Linked DNA regions of Homo sapiens: region 1 is linked to region 2. The links come from fine-mapping of genetic effects on gene expression. Tissue or cell type: whole blood. Region 2 holds a variant in brackets; the other region holds the start of a gene. All regions are shown on one strand. Distances are from middle to middle.

Region 1 (8,082 bases), 290 kb before region 2:
AGAATCCAAAGGGAAACTAGTTTCCGGGGCCGCTGTGTGTGCGGGTGCTTGGTGGGCTGAAAGCTGCTGTCACTAGATGGCTGTAAGTGTGCCAACATCTGACCTGTCCCATTGTGTTGTGTTTTGCAGTTGCTGGATTTGTGCGACTCGGTGAAGGATGATGCCCGGAGGGTGATCTCGACCTTTAACATTCCACACACCTACCTCCACGCACCAATCGCCGGAATCTCCAACCCGCGGGCCGCGTGGGCTTTCTACCCTGCACCGCTGCAGCCGCGGCCACGGGAAGAGGCGCGCTCCCGGCGGCCCAAGCTGGGAGCCAAGCTCTAACGGGTGTGGCGGGAAGTGTGGTGGCCCGCCAGCAGCTGCCACGACGCTCGCTCCACCGACGCCCAGAGCTGTGGCCGAGGCCGGGGGCTGGCACCCGCTGGGCCGCCACTCTCGGGGATTTTGGTGGCAAAGCGGAGGTCCCGCCGAGGCTGGCGAGGTGCGCGGCTGGCTGCTAGGAAAGAGATCCAGACGGTCGCCTGGTGCGCTGGATCCCTGTGCCCTTTCCCTGAAACCCAGCCTGGCCTGACTGCAACCTCTCCCAACTTCAGTGCCGGATCCCCTAGACAATCAGGGTGGGCTCCCCGCTGCGAGCGCGCCCCACAGCCGGGTGCCGCCAAAGGTCTCCTGCTGTTAGCGGTGACTCACATTCCCAGTGATTTAGAAAAACTGTGGTGCCGAGTGAAAGAAAAAAAAAAAAGCAAACACCCTTAGACAAAAGAAAAAAGCTCCACTCTTTCCGCGAGCGGGAAAAAAGGTTTGGTTCAGCAAGTGATGCTATTTCAGTGAATCAGACGCTCTGGGGCTCTGCAAGGAAACGCACGGACTGGGAGAAGGAAGTGGGAGCCTAGAGTTTTGCTCTCGGCAAAACAAGAACTCGGCTTGTCCTCCCAGGCCGGCGGTTTCCGTACGGCAAGACAAGGCGCGGAAAACATTTTTACCATCTGACGCTGTAGTCTGTCCTTTAGAAGAGAATAGGTGAAAAGTTTAATAAAGAAATTAAGCGATGTGGAAGTCGTTCCCGCTGCTTGCAGAGGGTGGGGAGGCGGGCCTGGGCAATTTCGGAACTAGGAGAGACCACGTCGGCAAAGCCTGTGGTCCCGAACAAGGGCCATGGATTTCCCATTTCTCAGATCCCGGCTGCCCGACTTCATTCTTGTTTCTTTCAGCACAAGCCATCCTCCCTTCTCCCTCCCTCCACGTCTCTTGGCAGAGACAGAAAGGGACACCGCTCTGCCCGCGTCCAGCGCGAAGGAGGTGACCTAAAACCCATGGGCCCTTCTCACACTGCGTTCTCTGCGCTCCGGCCCAGTTCCGGGAGGACCTCCCGACGGCGCGGGAGAAGGCTGTAAGGGCTCTTGGCCCCCGACGCGGCCTGGGTCTCGGGGGACGCATGAACCCGCCACCTCTGGCCGGCTTCCTTTTAGTGCCCCAAATAGCAGCGCTTAGCCCGTTGCTTCCCCCGACTCTTGTTTTTCAAAGTGTTCACAGGGTCGCGAGAGCGAGCGACGCGGGGGCGGCGAGGCTGCAAGGCTGCACAGGAACAGACGACAAGAAATAGGGCTTTCTTCTGCGTGGTTCTTTTCCGGTCCCTGTCTGAGTCGCCCGACCCCGCGGGGAGCGCGGAGCATTGCGGCGTGCGGCGGGCTTCGGGCTCTCAGCCCGCGCAGCAAGTTGTGTTGCTTTTCCCCGGGTGCGACGCGGGACGGCCGCGAAGAGCAAAGTTCGTCCGCGGTAGGAACTTCGAGGCCCGGTTAGGACCGATCTCCGGCCTCCGAGTCTACTTAGCCGTGTCCACGCTCGTGCCTTTTCCCTCTTGCAGCGAAATAACTGGGCGGGGCCCGACGCGCGTCCTCCAGCGACTCCGGGAACCCAAGGCCTCCTTCACCTCGCTCAAAATTCACCCGAAAATGCGCTGAGACTTTGGCATGGGGCTGCGCTGTGTCCCACTGACGTTACAGAAGCGCTTATGAATTTAAAAACTGCTCCAGGCGGCCGGACGGCGGGACAACGCCTCCTCACTTGCTCCTCTACGGCAAGGCCCCTTCCTTCTCCCTGCCGGCTGCGGTGGTGTGTAGGGTGGTCCCTTTACAGAGTTTCCTTAATCCATCTAGCCTGACCTCACCTGCGGGATGTTCCATTTCCCGATCCACCTCCCACACCCCCGCTGCAGTTGTCTAGAAGCTGGGGCTGGGGAACTGAGGCGCGGGAGGAGCAGACAGGAGGGCCGGGGTTGGGGCGCCAGCCACGCGTTGGGAGAGCAGACCCGGGTGCAGACTCAGAGGACTGGAGAGGCGGCATGGAGTTTGGTCTCCTGGGAGGTAGAGTGAGGTGCTGCGGACTCCAGGGAGGAAAGGGATGGGTGGGGAGGCGGGAGGGGAGGAGGGACGGGGTATTTTGCGCTCCCGCACCGCGGCCCGAACTCAGCTGTTCTGCCTTCACTGGCCTCAGCCAGTCGAGGGAGCTCCTACGAGGTTATCTGCGAGCCCAGCAAATCTTGGGGGTCCTAGCCAAATGCAGTGCGCAACGTTCTCTCTCACTTGGAGGCCGCCATTCACCTCGTTTTTTTTTTTCCTAAAAGGATTTTTTTTTCTGAGTGCTTTTTTCATTTCCCTATTTTACCTGCTTTGCACATGCCTCCCGCCCTCACCCGGGAGGCGGCGAAGACGCCCACTGGGACCGCGCCTGGCCGTTTTCTGGGCGCGTCCTGCCCCCACGGCCTCTGTCTCTTAGGGCGACTGGGCGCGGAAGAAAAGCTGGAGAGCCCCTGCGGGGTGGCAGGAGGAGGGTGCCTGAGTCCCGCGAGAGGCCCGGGCGAGGAAGATGCGCAGCCTGCTGATCCGCGTCCCGCCCGGCGCCAGGGACCCTCAGAGGGAGGAGAGCTCAAAGACCTCGCCCCGCGCCTTCGCGAGGACCAACCCAGTCCCCGCGCCTGCCCCAGAGCGGCTTAGAAACTCAGGGCACAGTGAGAGCGCAGGGCGCCTCCCGAGGCTTCACACCGCCGGCCGGGCCAGCGGAGGCTGTGACCGGAGCGCCCCCTCTGTGCCGCGCACGCCGCGGCCGCCGCCGGGTTGGGGTAGGTGAGCGGGAGGCTAGGGTACACTTCGGGGTGGGGGATGGGCGCGCACATGGCCGCCAGCAGGCAGAGTTACTCCGGTAAACACGCCAGGGACGGCGGCGCGCGCGGGAGGCAACCCAGCGGGGCAACCCCCGCCTTTACCTGTCCGAGCCTGCACGCGCCGGCGGCCGCGGCGCCGAGGGGGGCGGAGCTTGCCAGCCCGCGCGCCGGGGCGGGACCTAGCGGGGGCGGGGTCCGCAGTGATTGGGCGTAGGAGCGGGGCCGCCAGCCAGAGCTGGGCTGCAGGGCCGCGCAGGTTTCACTTCGCTCCGCGCAGCCGCCTGGTCTGCAGTTTGTTGGAGCTCTGCGTCCAGCGCCGCTGCCGCTGCCGCCGCCGCCGCCGCCGCCGCCGCCGCCGCCGCCGCCGCCACTACCACCACTTGATTCTTGCAGCCACCCTGCGAACCCTGCCACACTGCGATCGCATCATCGCGGTATTCGGTTCGCTGCGTTCCCGCCGCCACCGCCTCGGCGCCCTTTCTTGGCCCTTGTTCCCCCAAATGTCTGACTCTGACTCTCGGACTGAGAAACGCAAGGTAAATACCTCCAAATCCCGGGGCGCGGGCCTGGCACCGAAGGAAGACTAGCGCTGGAGCCCGAACGGCACCACCTACTGCCCGCTTCCCGTGCACGTGCGAGCGGAGACGCTTGCATCGGCGCCGCTTGTCGCCGGCGGGAGGTGGGGATCCGTGTGGATCGGGTTCCCTCTCGGGCAGGTTCTCTTTAAAGAAAAGTCGTTCACGCGGAACCTGCAGGCTCTTGGCCGAAGTGCGGCTTGGGACGGGATGCTGCGCGCGGGCCTGGTGAAGGGTCGTAGGTCCGGGCAGGAGGAGAGGCAGCGCGTGCCTTTCGGCGCCGGCCCGGGAGCTGAGGACCTGCTCGTAGTATCGGGCTGTGCGCCCAGCTGGAAAGTCTCGCCGCCGGCTCCGGCGCCCTCAGAGTAGCGGCCGCGCAGTGTGAGGGTGTTTCGTGTCTTGGTTTTTTGGGGCGCGTGGGCCTGTTGCGGAGGATTTGCGGAACTGCGGTGGTGATTTAACTGACGAGACACGGCTTTTCCTTTTACTCATTCAGGCCAAGGTTTCGGGGCCACTGCTGCGTTCGCTTTCTCAAGCGTACCTGGGGCCCCTGCTTGCTCTGCAGGAGTCCTGCGGCCTGTGCCATCCGCACGATTCCCTGGCAGCGAGAAATCTAGGTCCTCCCCTGACCACCTGGACCGCGCAGGGGACTAGTCGCGGCCGGCAGAACCTGCTCGGTCCCTGGGCCGGGCTATCTTAGCGGCTCACGCATGCCCGAGCACACCCGACCCGGTTCGCGGTGCAGGCTGGCGGCGCCGTGCCCTCTGGGACCTGTTGCCCCAGGGTTGGCGCTGCTGGTGGAGGGCCCGACGGACGCCAGGGCGGAGGGTGTGAATTTACTCGATGGTCGCGGACGTGCGCGTCCGCGGCCAGGGGTGGCTCTTCGGCTTTGACTCGTGTCTGCGGCGCACCAGGAGAGAGAGGAAGTTGTTGGAGGAGAATAGTTGCCACAGCCAGGGCGGTGACGGCCGTTAGGGTCTGCCCCCGACGGGCCAAAACAAGGACAAGTGGCGAGGACTGGGCCTGGGGATGGCCCTGCGGGTCCGGGCGCGGCGCAAGTCCTGCTTTGTCTCCAGGTGACTGGCTGTCCAGGACGGCGGGAGCTGCTAAGGCTTGTGTCCGGAAGGAGCACAGGGATGGGCAGGGTGGCCGGGCCAGCCGGCCCTCAAATCCTCCGACGAAGCGGCAGCCGCCACGACCACGGCCAGAGCAGCGCTCGGAGGCGAGTTTGTCAACAATCGCCTCGCCTTTGGCGGCCTGACCCGTAGGCGCCGCCCCCACCGCGGCTGCCGATTGGCTGCGGCGCGGAGCGACCGCGCGCGGACCAATTGGGAACGCGGGCACCCGGCGCCAGCGGCGCGGGGAGGTCGGCGGTGCCGGCGGCGGCGGGCGCAGAGCGCGAGGGGAGGAGCGGGAGGAGGCGGAGGATGTTCCCGGCGGCTGCGGCCGGGGCAGCGCGGGCCAGAGGCGCGGCGTGCGGAGCCCTCGGCTGCCCGGCGGAGCGCGGCGGCGGGCTGGCGGGAAGGCGCGGGCTTTGCGCTGCGCCGGGGACTCTGAACCCGAGTCCCGGGCTTTGTCTCCTGCGCTGCTTTCGTGGTGACGGTCAGGGGGCGCCCGGTCGGCGAAGGGCGCGGGCCGGACGCCGCGGGGCTTGGTCCCTGGCCCGGACGCTGCGCTCTGAAGGGAAGGCGCGGACGTGAGTTTCGGTGTGATTGCCTTCTGAGGGGAGGGTCTGTGGGATGAAGGCGGCGCGGCGCGCACCGGTGTCGCCTAGCCTGCGGACCTAGTTGTAGACCTTGCAGGCGTTCGCTTCGTCGCCCTCCGCCGCCCCCTCCCCATTTAGAGATGTGCACCTCACGGTGTGCACCTCAGAGAAGTTCTGTCTGATTCGGTGCGGCGTGCGGTACGGGAGCGGGAGGGAGGGAGCACGGGCGGAGAGAGCGCCAGAGCCGGGCCGAGCCGCGCTGGAGTTACAAACTCTATTGTGACGCACTTACTACGACTGACGGCCGCTGCCAGACCTTCCCCAGACTTGCTGCCCTCAGCATTTTCGGCAAACAATGGGGCCGGAGCAGGGAACGCGGCCAGCCGCCTGCAATCGCTGCATCTGCGCCCGCTCCTGTGCTCCGGCGTCCTACCTAACCCCGGGAAGTCAGAGCCGCTGGGAGTTTCTGACTTACTCGAAGAAGTCTGTCCTGGGCAAAGAGCACACACGAATAGACTTCAGATTAGCTGCTTCTCTGGAAACGCATGTGTGTGTGCACCAGTTCCGCAAGCTGTTGACATTGTTACTGTATTTTGTTTGGGGGTACCCTCTACCAAAAAAAAATTACACCTTTATTATTTTAGGTGCAATTTTTTTATTTGGGAGATTGTCAGAAAAGTATAGAACAAAGTATTTGGGATTAACCCTAAGAATTTTTAATCGCTAGGTGAGAGCTAATTTGTTTATTCATCGATTTTTTTTTTTGCTTAAAATAATCTTAGTTTTTATTTTACTTGCAGAAAAAAAGACCAAATGGCAAAGCAACCTTCTGATGTAAGTTCTGAGTGTGACCGAGAAGGTAGACAATTGCAGCCTGCGGAGAGGCCTCCCCAGCTCAGACCTGGGGCCCCTACCTCCCTACAGACAGAGCCACAAGGTAATCCTGAAGGCAATCACGGAGGTGAAGGGGACAGCTGCCCCCACGGCAGCCCTCAGGGCCCGCTGGCCCCACCTGCCAGCCCTGGCCCTTTTGCTACCAGATCCCCGCTTTTCATCTTTATGAGAAGATCCTCCCTGCTGTCTCGATCCTCCAGTGGGTATTTCTCTTTTGACACAGACAGGAGCCCAGCACCCATGAGTTGTGACAAATCAACACAAACCCCAAGTCCTCCTTGCCAGGCCTTCAACCACTATCTCAGTGCAATGGGTAAGCAATGCCTGGGTAAGAGGCAGTTGACGTGTGGATGGTTGAATCTGCTTGAAGGCTGTGTGTGGCATTTAAAATCCCCTTTTAAAACCCCGTAACTGATTTATTCCATCTTTAGATGGGAATGGAGGATGTGTCAAACTATCAAACCAACTTTTTTTTTTTTTTTTGAGATGAGTCTTGCTCTGTCGCCCAGGCTGGAGTGCAGTGGTGCAATCTCAGCTCACCGCAAGCTCCACCTCCCGGGTTCAAGCAATTCTCCTACCTCAGCCTCCAGAGTAGCTGGGACTACAGGCGCGTGCCACCACGCCCAGCTAATTTTTTCTATTTTTGGTAGAGATGGGGTTTCACCGTGTTAGCCAGGATGGTCTCAATCTCCTGACCTTGTAATCTGCCTGTCTCAGCCTCCCAAAGTGCTGGGATTACAGGCGTGAGCCACCGCGCATGGCCCACATCAACATTTTTACAAAGTTACTAACTTTTGTGGCAGTGATGAGTTGAGGTCCAAACATTAGCTTTCAGGTCTGTCTTCATTAAGCTAAAGTGTGTTTTAACCACCAGGCTTTACATAGTAATGACATTTTGCTTGAAAGGGAACTGATCATTTACAGAAAATAGCTTAATAATCAAAAGTGTAAAGAAAGATGACAATCATTTTTGAAAATAACACTTTTAAAAAAATGAACTAGTTCATGAAAGCAGTACCAACATAGAACCATGAAAATGGTTTGTTTTCTGCCTAAATTCCTCTTTGTGCTTATTGCTCAGAGGGTTTGGACATAGTACTAATCAGATTAGGTTGTAGGTTTTTATTTCAGGGATTAAAGGCAGTAGTAGGGTTTGAACCAAGAGTGGCTAACATAAATACCACAGAGGCCCACAGCAAAATCATGGAAGGAACTGACCTGGTGGAGACTGGTAAATTGGAGAGTATTTGCCCCTTCTATGTTTGGGCCACACCTAATTGTGGCTGTGAGGGCATGTGGTCTCAGGGTGGGTTTTCCTATATTGCAAGATAACCTAGGAATGCAAAATTGATGCCAGATACCCTGTTTCAACATTGACAGCTGATTCAGATTTTGAAAACATTGTACAAGCTGAAAAGAAACATCTGCAGACTTGATTTGGCCCTTGAACCTACAGCATGTGACTTTGGGTACATACTTTGGGTAACCTTGGTGAGGGGCTGAGTCTGTGTTGATCGACTTGCTGTTCCCCACCAATGGAAAAGGTTCATGTCTTGATCAGTAGTCAATCACATTGACCATTTGTCCAGATTAGCTTGCCATACATGAACAAGATAGAAGTAAGTTGGTAGAGTTATCAATTAGGAAACCCAGTACAGAGTCTATTATAATTTAGATTGTACCTCATGATGAAGGCTAACTCAACAAACCCATCAGAACAGACACTGGAACAAAATGACATT
Region 2 (8,102 bases):
GAAGAAGCACTGGTCCTCTTGCTCCTGCGTAGGCTGGCATGTGGATCCACCCCTTCTCAAGGTATCACACAAGTGCAGGGGCCAGAGGAAACCAGGGGCTGCAGAGGTAAGGGTCAATGTGGGGTGGCCCCAAAAACAGCTCTCCTGACAAAGTTTTGTGGCTTTTTTTGTTGCTAGGCTGCTTCAAGTATCACTCAGGGATGTAGAAGACTGTCTCATAGGTCTTAACTATAACTATCTGAGTCTGAATAATGGCTCCCAAAGACATCCACAAATCCCTGGAACCTGAGAATGTTACCTTACACGGCAAAAGGGACTTTGCAGATGTGATTAAGTTGAAGATCTTGAGATAGAGAGGTAGTCCTGGATTATCTGAGTGGGCCCTTAACGTAACCACTGGGGTCCTTATATGAAGGAGGCAAGAAGGTTAAAGAAGGGATAGCCATGTGACGATGGGGCAGACACTGGAGTGATGGACTTTAAGTGGAGGAAGGGTCCACAAGCCAAGGAACGTTGGCCATGTCTAAAAGCCGGAACAGACAAGGAAGCTGATCTCCCCAAAGCCCTGCCGAAACCTTGACTTTAGCCCATTGAAACAGATTTCAGGCTTCTGGCCTTTGGGAACTGTGAGAGAATACATTTGTGTTTTGTGTTAAGCTACCAAGGATGTTAGAGCAGCCATGGGAAAGGGGTGCTGTTTGCATGAGAAAAGCAGGAAGACAGAGAGAGGAACTGTGTCAGCCTCCTGGTCTGTGGGGAGCCACATCCCAGGAACCCCAACCTCTGCCTTTTGCTGGGAAACATTCTCCCAGTCTCCCAGTCTGAAACACCTCCCTCAAATCCCAAAAAGACAATGGTGGGAATCCTCCAAGGTCCAGCAGAGCCTTGGGACAAGATGCAATCTTTCGCTAGCCCCAAGTGGGTGGGTTCACCCACCCTCAGCTCCAGCAGGTAGGCCCTTCTGAATCTCAGGCTGGCTGAATAGGTTCCAGACGCAGGAGGGAGCCCCCCCACCCCCTCTGGCAGCTGGAGTGTGTGCTGGAGATCTGGGCATGGGCTTGCCCAGGCAAAGAGTGGAGAAGCTTTTATAGGAAAGCTGTAAAAGCAAGCAGGGTTGACCTGGGCACTCCCCCAGTTCCCATGAGTCTGGGGCCCACGACTGGCTCATCGATTGCTTGAACAAGCACACATCAGAGACATCCAGATCAGAATGGAAGCTGCTCAAGGCTCAGATGATCCCTGAGCCACCAACGTTATCCTGGAGGTTCTTATCACAGAGTATGGGAAATGCCATACTGGGCTGTGGGTTTGCAGAAATCCTCCAAAAGATGCAGAAACAAGTCCAGCTGAAAATGGAATGCTTCCTGATGGCTCATTTTGTTCCAGCCTCAACCCAAAGGTATCTATCACAATATTTCTTGTACAATGGGTTGTGCAGCGGGGGGAAGGGAGATGCTTTACAGGCATAGTGTGGGGTGAGGTACATTTCGTAACAGCTCTTGTTTACTGAGATGGCTTTCTACTGACAAAGAAAAAAGTCCCGAAAAGAAGGGGGCCTGTTAATTGTTTGCTTCCTTTTGCTTTTTTGGTTACAACAGTAAAAACTGTCCTTCAAATTTAGTCCCAGAAGACATCAGAGTTTGACAATGACAAGTGGGGAATAGAAGTTCCTGGGCTATCAGCTTCGCGGCTCCCTCCTCTACATGTGGGCTCGGGGACACAGAGCTGGTCCCTGCCCAGTCTCGGAGGCCAGAGAATCAAGTTCTGGGTGTGTGAGACTGATGGGACAGGCTTCCTCTGACCGAGTTGGGCAACTTGGGGCTTTTAACTGCCTTGGGAATGAGGGTGGGTGCCTTAAATGAGGAACTAAGACAGGCCCTCATTTCCCAGCAGGGATGCCGCTCAGCCTGCAGAGTTCCCCGTTCCCAAGGCTTGTGAAGCAGGAGACAAAAGAGGGGCCTTCCTCAGGACACTGTTGTGGGGTGGGGTGCTCACTCGCTCTCCTGTGCCCATGTACTCCTCTCCCCCTCTACTTCCCTCTCTTTGGGAATCCCTATGGGGCAAGTACAGGGAGATGGGAAGAAGTGGGTGGGATGGATCTGGGCTAATGACGAGGGCAGCCTCTTCCCCCCTCGGGTCTCCCTCCACCCTCTTCAGTCCCTAGTACCTGCTGGGACCTGCCTCCTTAATAGGTAACCCCTACAGCTCTCCTCGGCCAGTCTCTGCACACTGCGCCCATGGGTTCCCGATGCCACTGCCCTCAGAACATGCAGTCAGAGGCTCTGGGGAGCTAGAGGTTCAGGTGGGTGTAGAGAACACCACACATATCCTCCCAGGGCAGCCAGGACATCCCACGGGGAGGCAAAGAGGGTCCTGTCCTGGGCTTCCTCCACACTCAGACCACTTCCTCACCTGCCCACCAAGCAGCAGTGTGCATGGTTAATGGAAATTGGCATCTCTTCTATCCATGTGAGGAACCACCAAGACCTACTAGCTAGGTTTACGATCCAGGTTCTAGATACCAGGGGTTAGGAGGGAAGGACCCCCAAGACCTACTAGCTAGGTCTACAATCCAGGTTGTAGATACTATGAGTTAGGAGGGAAGGCCCAGGAGTGCCATTCCCCAGGTTCAAATTCCAGCTCCAAGACTCACCCTGTGTGTGCCCTGGCATAACTCAAGGTGCCCTCAGCTTCCCCATCCTTAAATGGCAAGGTTTCGTACTTGCCTTTAGAGCTGCTTGTGGGGATTAAATGATACCTAGTTGCCAAGGGCTTTGCACCGGCCCTAGTATGCGGTAGTGCCAGTTACAGAGGAGGAAACAGAGGCTCAGGGAGATTGAGCACCTCGACTAAAGAGAGGAGTGGAATTTCAGTCCAGGAGGTCAGGCTGTCTTTCCGAGAGCCGACACCCACCAGCCTTTGGTGGGCTTGAGAACACGTGGGGCCTGCCATCCACGCTGCTGGCATGCATCAGGTGGTGTCAGGTGGGTCCTCGCACAGTGAATCCTGAGCAGAGGGCAGGGGGACGAGGGGGCGGCTGGAGCCCAGTTCGCTTTTGCGAAGCACTTCCTGAACTGCACATTCGGTTACCACAAAATGAGTCAAGGTCCCTTTTAAGTGGCTTGCTGAGCTTCCCTCTGATCTGGCACTGTCTCCCTGGGATGGCCGGCAGCAGGCTTCCCTGACGAGCTGTCAGGCCTGGCACCGGAGCCCCTTCCCTGGGCACCAGCTCTGCACGAGCACCCCTTCACTCTTCCTCATGACAATTCCATGAGGCAGGGGCTGGTCTTGTTTCCACTTTAAGTGGGGAAACTGAGGCTCAGAGAGGTTGGGTGAGTTGCCTTGGGTCACACAGCTTAGTCAGGTTCAGAGCTGCAACCTGAACTCTGGCCTGTCTGGTTCTTAGCTGTTTTGCTTGCTCTTCTGCCTGGCTCATGGCAGTGAGGAGACCCACGCTCACCTTCGCTGCCTGGGTCAAGTAGCTGCCTGGGACCTCTCTATGGACCCATTTGCAAATCAAGGATGGGGAAGTGAGGTTGTGGGGATGAACCATTAGAAGCAACTTCTCATGTCCCAGAAGGAAACAGGGGACTGTGCTTTCCAGGATGAAAATACAAGGGCCCCCTGATGGACTAGTGTCCTCCCTATGGATTGAGTCCCTCTAAGAAATGGGTTGCTCTCCCCACAAACAGGCTTAGCTTAAAGACCTTGTGTTTCCTGGGCAAGAGAGGCACCCACAAAAGGCCTTCACTAAAACCTGGCTTCAGGCCCAGGGCCCTGGTCCGGATGCAGAGGAGGCCTCAGCTGGGAAGGGTCCGTCCTCCTGGGGCTTGGGGGGTGGGGGTCATGCTCTCCTGGAAATGGGCTGCCCCAAGACCCACATGAGTCTTACCCCAGTGTCTCCTTTAGAGTCCTGGAGCAAGAAGGAGGGATTCCCAGTGATATCTGGTGAGTAAGAGAGAAAAGGAAGCGGGTACATCCAGAAACACAAGCACAGTCTGTGAACACCGTCAGACAAGAGGGCCTGAATGGCGCCTGTGGTGATTGGGTCTTTTTGTTTGCTTTTGTTTTTGTCATTGTTGTTTTGAGTCAGTTTAGGAGTTTTTTTTAGTAATGACTACTGGGAAACTCAGAGGGAAACACATACACACACACACACACACACACACACAAACACATGAAAGAACAACAATGCGGGGTGATGACCACGGCTCAACCAAACGACATTTTCATCATCCTGACACATCTTGTTGAAACGGAAACAGATCTGGGCCTAAGGTCCTCACATCATTTTTCCTGATTCTCTTTGTCTGTTTTTAAAAGTAAC[G/A]TTCAATTAGAGAAATAACGCATAGCCCTCCTTGTAAAATACTACAACGTGATAAATAAGGCTCAAGAACTCCTTGGCTGCTGTCTGGACCGAGGGTCCCTCCCCAAGCCAGCCACTGTGCTCTATTTTCTGTGGGTCTTTGCAGTCTGGGTCGAACTTTTTAAGCATTTCATTGCTACTACTTAGCTTTTGAGAGTGGGTTCAGCGCTCGTGACTGAAGCATATGCTTAGAGAACAGTGTCCCTGAAGTCAAATCTCAAACTTTGCCTCAATGCCTCTTGCCTCAGAAGGGCCCAGAAAGGTCTGAATTGCCCTGAGAGTTTTCCTCCAGACAATAGCTCAGCCTTCTGTGCCCAGCCATGTTTGCAAAACTTTCTCACACACCCCTCAGCTAGTCCTTCACAGTCTAAGCCTAGGCTGCTGGGATACACATTTCTATTTTGCAGATAATGAACAGAAGTCTCCACAGAGTTAAGAGTCTTATACAAAACTACCTACCCTGGCTGGTTTTTCCACTATAGCAGGGACTCCTTTCCTCCAAGTCCCGCCTCCACACCGAGGTCTCAGGTGGCGAGGGCCTTCCAGGCATGAATGTCCCACACCCGTGCTCCTGTCAGAGTCCTCACACTCCCTGACCAAGCTGCCTAAGTTCCAGGAAGCTCTAGGCCTGTGTTCTCCCAGGGAGGGGGGCTTCCCATCTAGTCCCTCAAACCAGGAGCCCGGGGGTATTTGTGAGGTTCTGGGAGACTCTAGGAGACCATAAATACCAGACCTTTAAGCAAGCATGGTCAGCAGCTGGTGATAAAATTGAAGGAAAGAGACACAGCAGCCTGCATTTCAACCCTGCCCTCTCCACACCCTCCAAACTGAGTACCTGGGGTTGCAGGGAGGCAGGGCCACCAAAGTCCCCAGTGGGACCGCAGTGTGGCTCTGAGGACGGAGCTGGATATTGTAAGGTTGGCAGCAACTCAGGCCAGTACTCTCAAGTGGGAACAGTTGGGAAAACAGGTAGAAAGAAAAGACAGCATGAGAATCTCTAGGACGGGAGCCAGCGCAGTCTTCCCAAAGAATATCGTGCAGACATGCTCTGCACACAAACCTTCCCTTCCTAGAGATCCAGAATATCTAGGAAGATTCATGTTCATCAGCATTATGAAAGCCCTGAGAAGTCCTGCAGTCATGGAATAATATAATAATAACGATAATAATAGCCCAAGGTTTTCTAAACTTACTAGTCCAGAGAACTCTTTTCTAGCGAAATGCCTATTGCTGTCTCCCCATGGAGCACATGTTGTGACTGCTGGCCTGGCCCATCTGGGGTAAGGAGCGATGTTGGTCACAGTGCTTCTTAAGCAGCTGTGAACTTCCACAGCCTCACTGCAATGGCCCTGGCCCCCAATCTTACTTCTGATAGGTTAGACAGATGCAATGTCTAAAACCCTCAATTACTGATAACACTTTTAGTGATGACTTAGATCTCAAACTATGGGGTCTCAAACTATGGCCCGTAGGCCAAATCTGGCCCTCTGCCTGTTTTTAAAAATAAAGTTGTATTAAAACACACCTTGGGCCATTCCTCTATGTATTACCGGTGGCTGCTTCATGCTACAATGGCAGAGTTGAGCCGTTGTGATAGAGACCATGCAGCCCAGCAAAGCCTAAAATGTTTACTCTCTGGCCTTTAGAAAAAATGTTTGCTGAACCCTGGCTTAAACAGAAAATCAAAACTCACCTGAAGGACTGGTTCTGTAAAGTCTCAATAGCATGGGAAATTTAGATTTAAAATCTCTGCAATTTGGACCAATCCACGTTCTGCCGTGGTTGTGTTGTTGATGTAACGGGCCCAGACTACAGCTCAAGTGTAGACAAGGGTGTGTGTGTGTGTGTGTGTGTGTGTGTGTGTGTGTGTTCATGGAGAGACTGGGAATAGGAACAGGATGGGGAGGAAAGAGAAATGCTTTATGGCTTAGGAATATTGAATTCGGAGCCAGAGCAGGGGAAGTTGTGCCACCCTATAAGCCTCAGCTTTGGTTGTATGAGAAACCTGGAGATAATGTAGCTGATGGCACAGGGTTGTTGTGGGCAGAAAATGAGCTCCTGTGAGCAGAGCACCTCTGCTGTCTCTAGGAGACTCAGCAAGTCCTGGGGACTCCTCCGCATTTCTTCTTCAGTGCCCAGGGTGCATTAAGTGCTCAACAAACGGGCTCCTATTCGGGAATTACTCAAGCGACACACAATCTTATTTGGGGAACAGACAATATCTGGGCAAGATAAAACTTCCCTCTTTCCTTTCAAGGTTGGACATTACGTGCTAATTTGGGTCATCTCCTGAGTGTGACCTTCAGCCAGCCATTGGTCACCTTACGTGCAAGTAGGGCATGAGTGGCATTCCATGTATAAACCACGTGACAGCTCGGAAAGCAGACGGTCCTGTAAGTGTAACCCACAGACTGAAAATGACCCATGGCAAAGGGCAATGCGTGCATGATTTTTATGCTGGAATTCATGATGGAACATTCTGGATTCCTCCCAGCAAACCTGAGCTGGCCTGCTCTGTTGGGCAGCGAGGTCTGCTCAGAGAGACGCTGGTGTTTATCTGCCACATCCTTTAGTTTTTATTGCACTCAGTCGCCTTGTATATTTAATGAGGAAATTTGCTGAAATGGTTACTAAGCCACAGGGGGAAAAAAAGGAAGGAGGTGGGGAGCCACTCTCCGACCCTGAAGTTGGCAAAGTTGCCTCATTAATCAGACCTGTGCTGGGATACGACGTTATTCATGTTTAGGGCATTAAAACTTGAAGCTAAAATTGTAGCAGGCGGTAATTTGAGTACAGGCAGCCTGTCTCTCTGCGATAGATTTATGATGTTTACTCAACAATGGATGGGAACTTTCAGGGAAAGACTGACCGCCCCCAACCCCCGCCTTTTCAAAACACATTGTCAGGCCACAGTGATCAAGTTCCCGATTTTTGTGTGAGTATGCAGAGCCTTTTTAAAAGTCTTCAGGGTGATAAGAGCAGACTGTATTCGATCTTCTCCATTCTGAGCTCAGCGGAAGTAGGAAAATATGCAAGGCAGATGGAATGAGCTGTCTACCAGGCGAATGGTGGTTGCCATGCTCTCTGACTACACTGCTCTTCCTGAAGTGACCGGTGCAGTGCCACCCCCACCGGCCTTGATGTTGAATCTGGAACATCTGGTCACTGTGTCACCTCATCAGGACCTCAAAGAATTCCCGACAAAAGCTTTCATGTTCCCGGCTGAGGGTCTTGCTTTCCTGTGCTTCAAGGTTACAATTCTTGGAACTGATTGCTGGGAATTTCAGGAAAGTGAGGGTTCCCATTTTCCAAGTTTTCCCACCTCCTTTCTGTCATGACACACAGACAGACGGAGGCCACATCCATCTCTGTCAGTCCAGGCAGACTTTGCCTTCAGGTCTCACATAGCAAAGGAAGAGGCATCAGCCTAGCCTTGGGTCTTGCCACTCAGATGGGAAGCCCTTTCTGTAAGAGGATTCCTTTAAGATGTGGCACAAAGAACATTTATACTGCACTTGGACAGGAAGGCCCCCAAGTGCATGAAAGCACTTTACAGTGTTCATCTCCTCTCCCTGGCACAGGTGTAGCAGAGGTGAGACCCAGTTCTGGTCACTCTGGCTGTTAGCTTTGCTTTTAGCTTTGCCCTGGGCCTGGTGTGTTGGTGATGAATTGCAGATAATACCACCAACCACATAGGGCTGTTTTGCAAACTAAGTTGACATTTTAAGCAGTTTGG

Evidence for each region. PIP is the estimated chance that this variant, and not a neighbour inherited with it, causes the effect.
Region 1: it holds the start of BCL2L11, and the variant in region 2 is fine-mapped to the expression of BCL2L11 in whole blood (TOPMed, PIP above 0.99).

What each region holds. Positions count from the first base shown.
Region 1 is chr2:111,117,487-111,125,568 of GRCh38, forward strand. It overlaps BCL2L11 (BCL2 like 11), which reads left to right and starts at 3,428. Exons shown (of 4, transcript NM_138621.5): 1 at 3,428-3,702; 2 at 6,247-6,653. The coding sequence starts at 6,260. ACOXL (acyl-CoA oxidase like) reads left to right here. Exons shown (of 18, transcript NM_001142807.4): 18 at 130-1,062. The coding sequence ends at 330. RefSeq lists enhancers at 2,633-2,712, 3,863-3,982 and silencers at 2,993-3,532, 3,866-4,160, 4,953-5,512.
Region 2 is chr2:111,409,234-111,417,335 of GRCh38, forward strand. The region is part of intron 1 of MIR4435-2HG (MIR4435-2 host gene); the gene reads right to left. Among named protein-coding and RNA genes, the nearest start is that of SOCAR, 78 kb to the right of the region's middle. The variant G/A (reference allele first, on the strand shown) is at 4,328.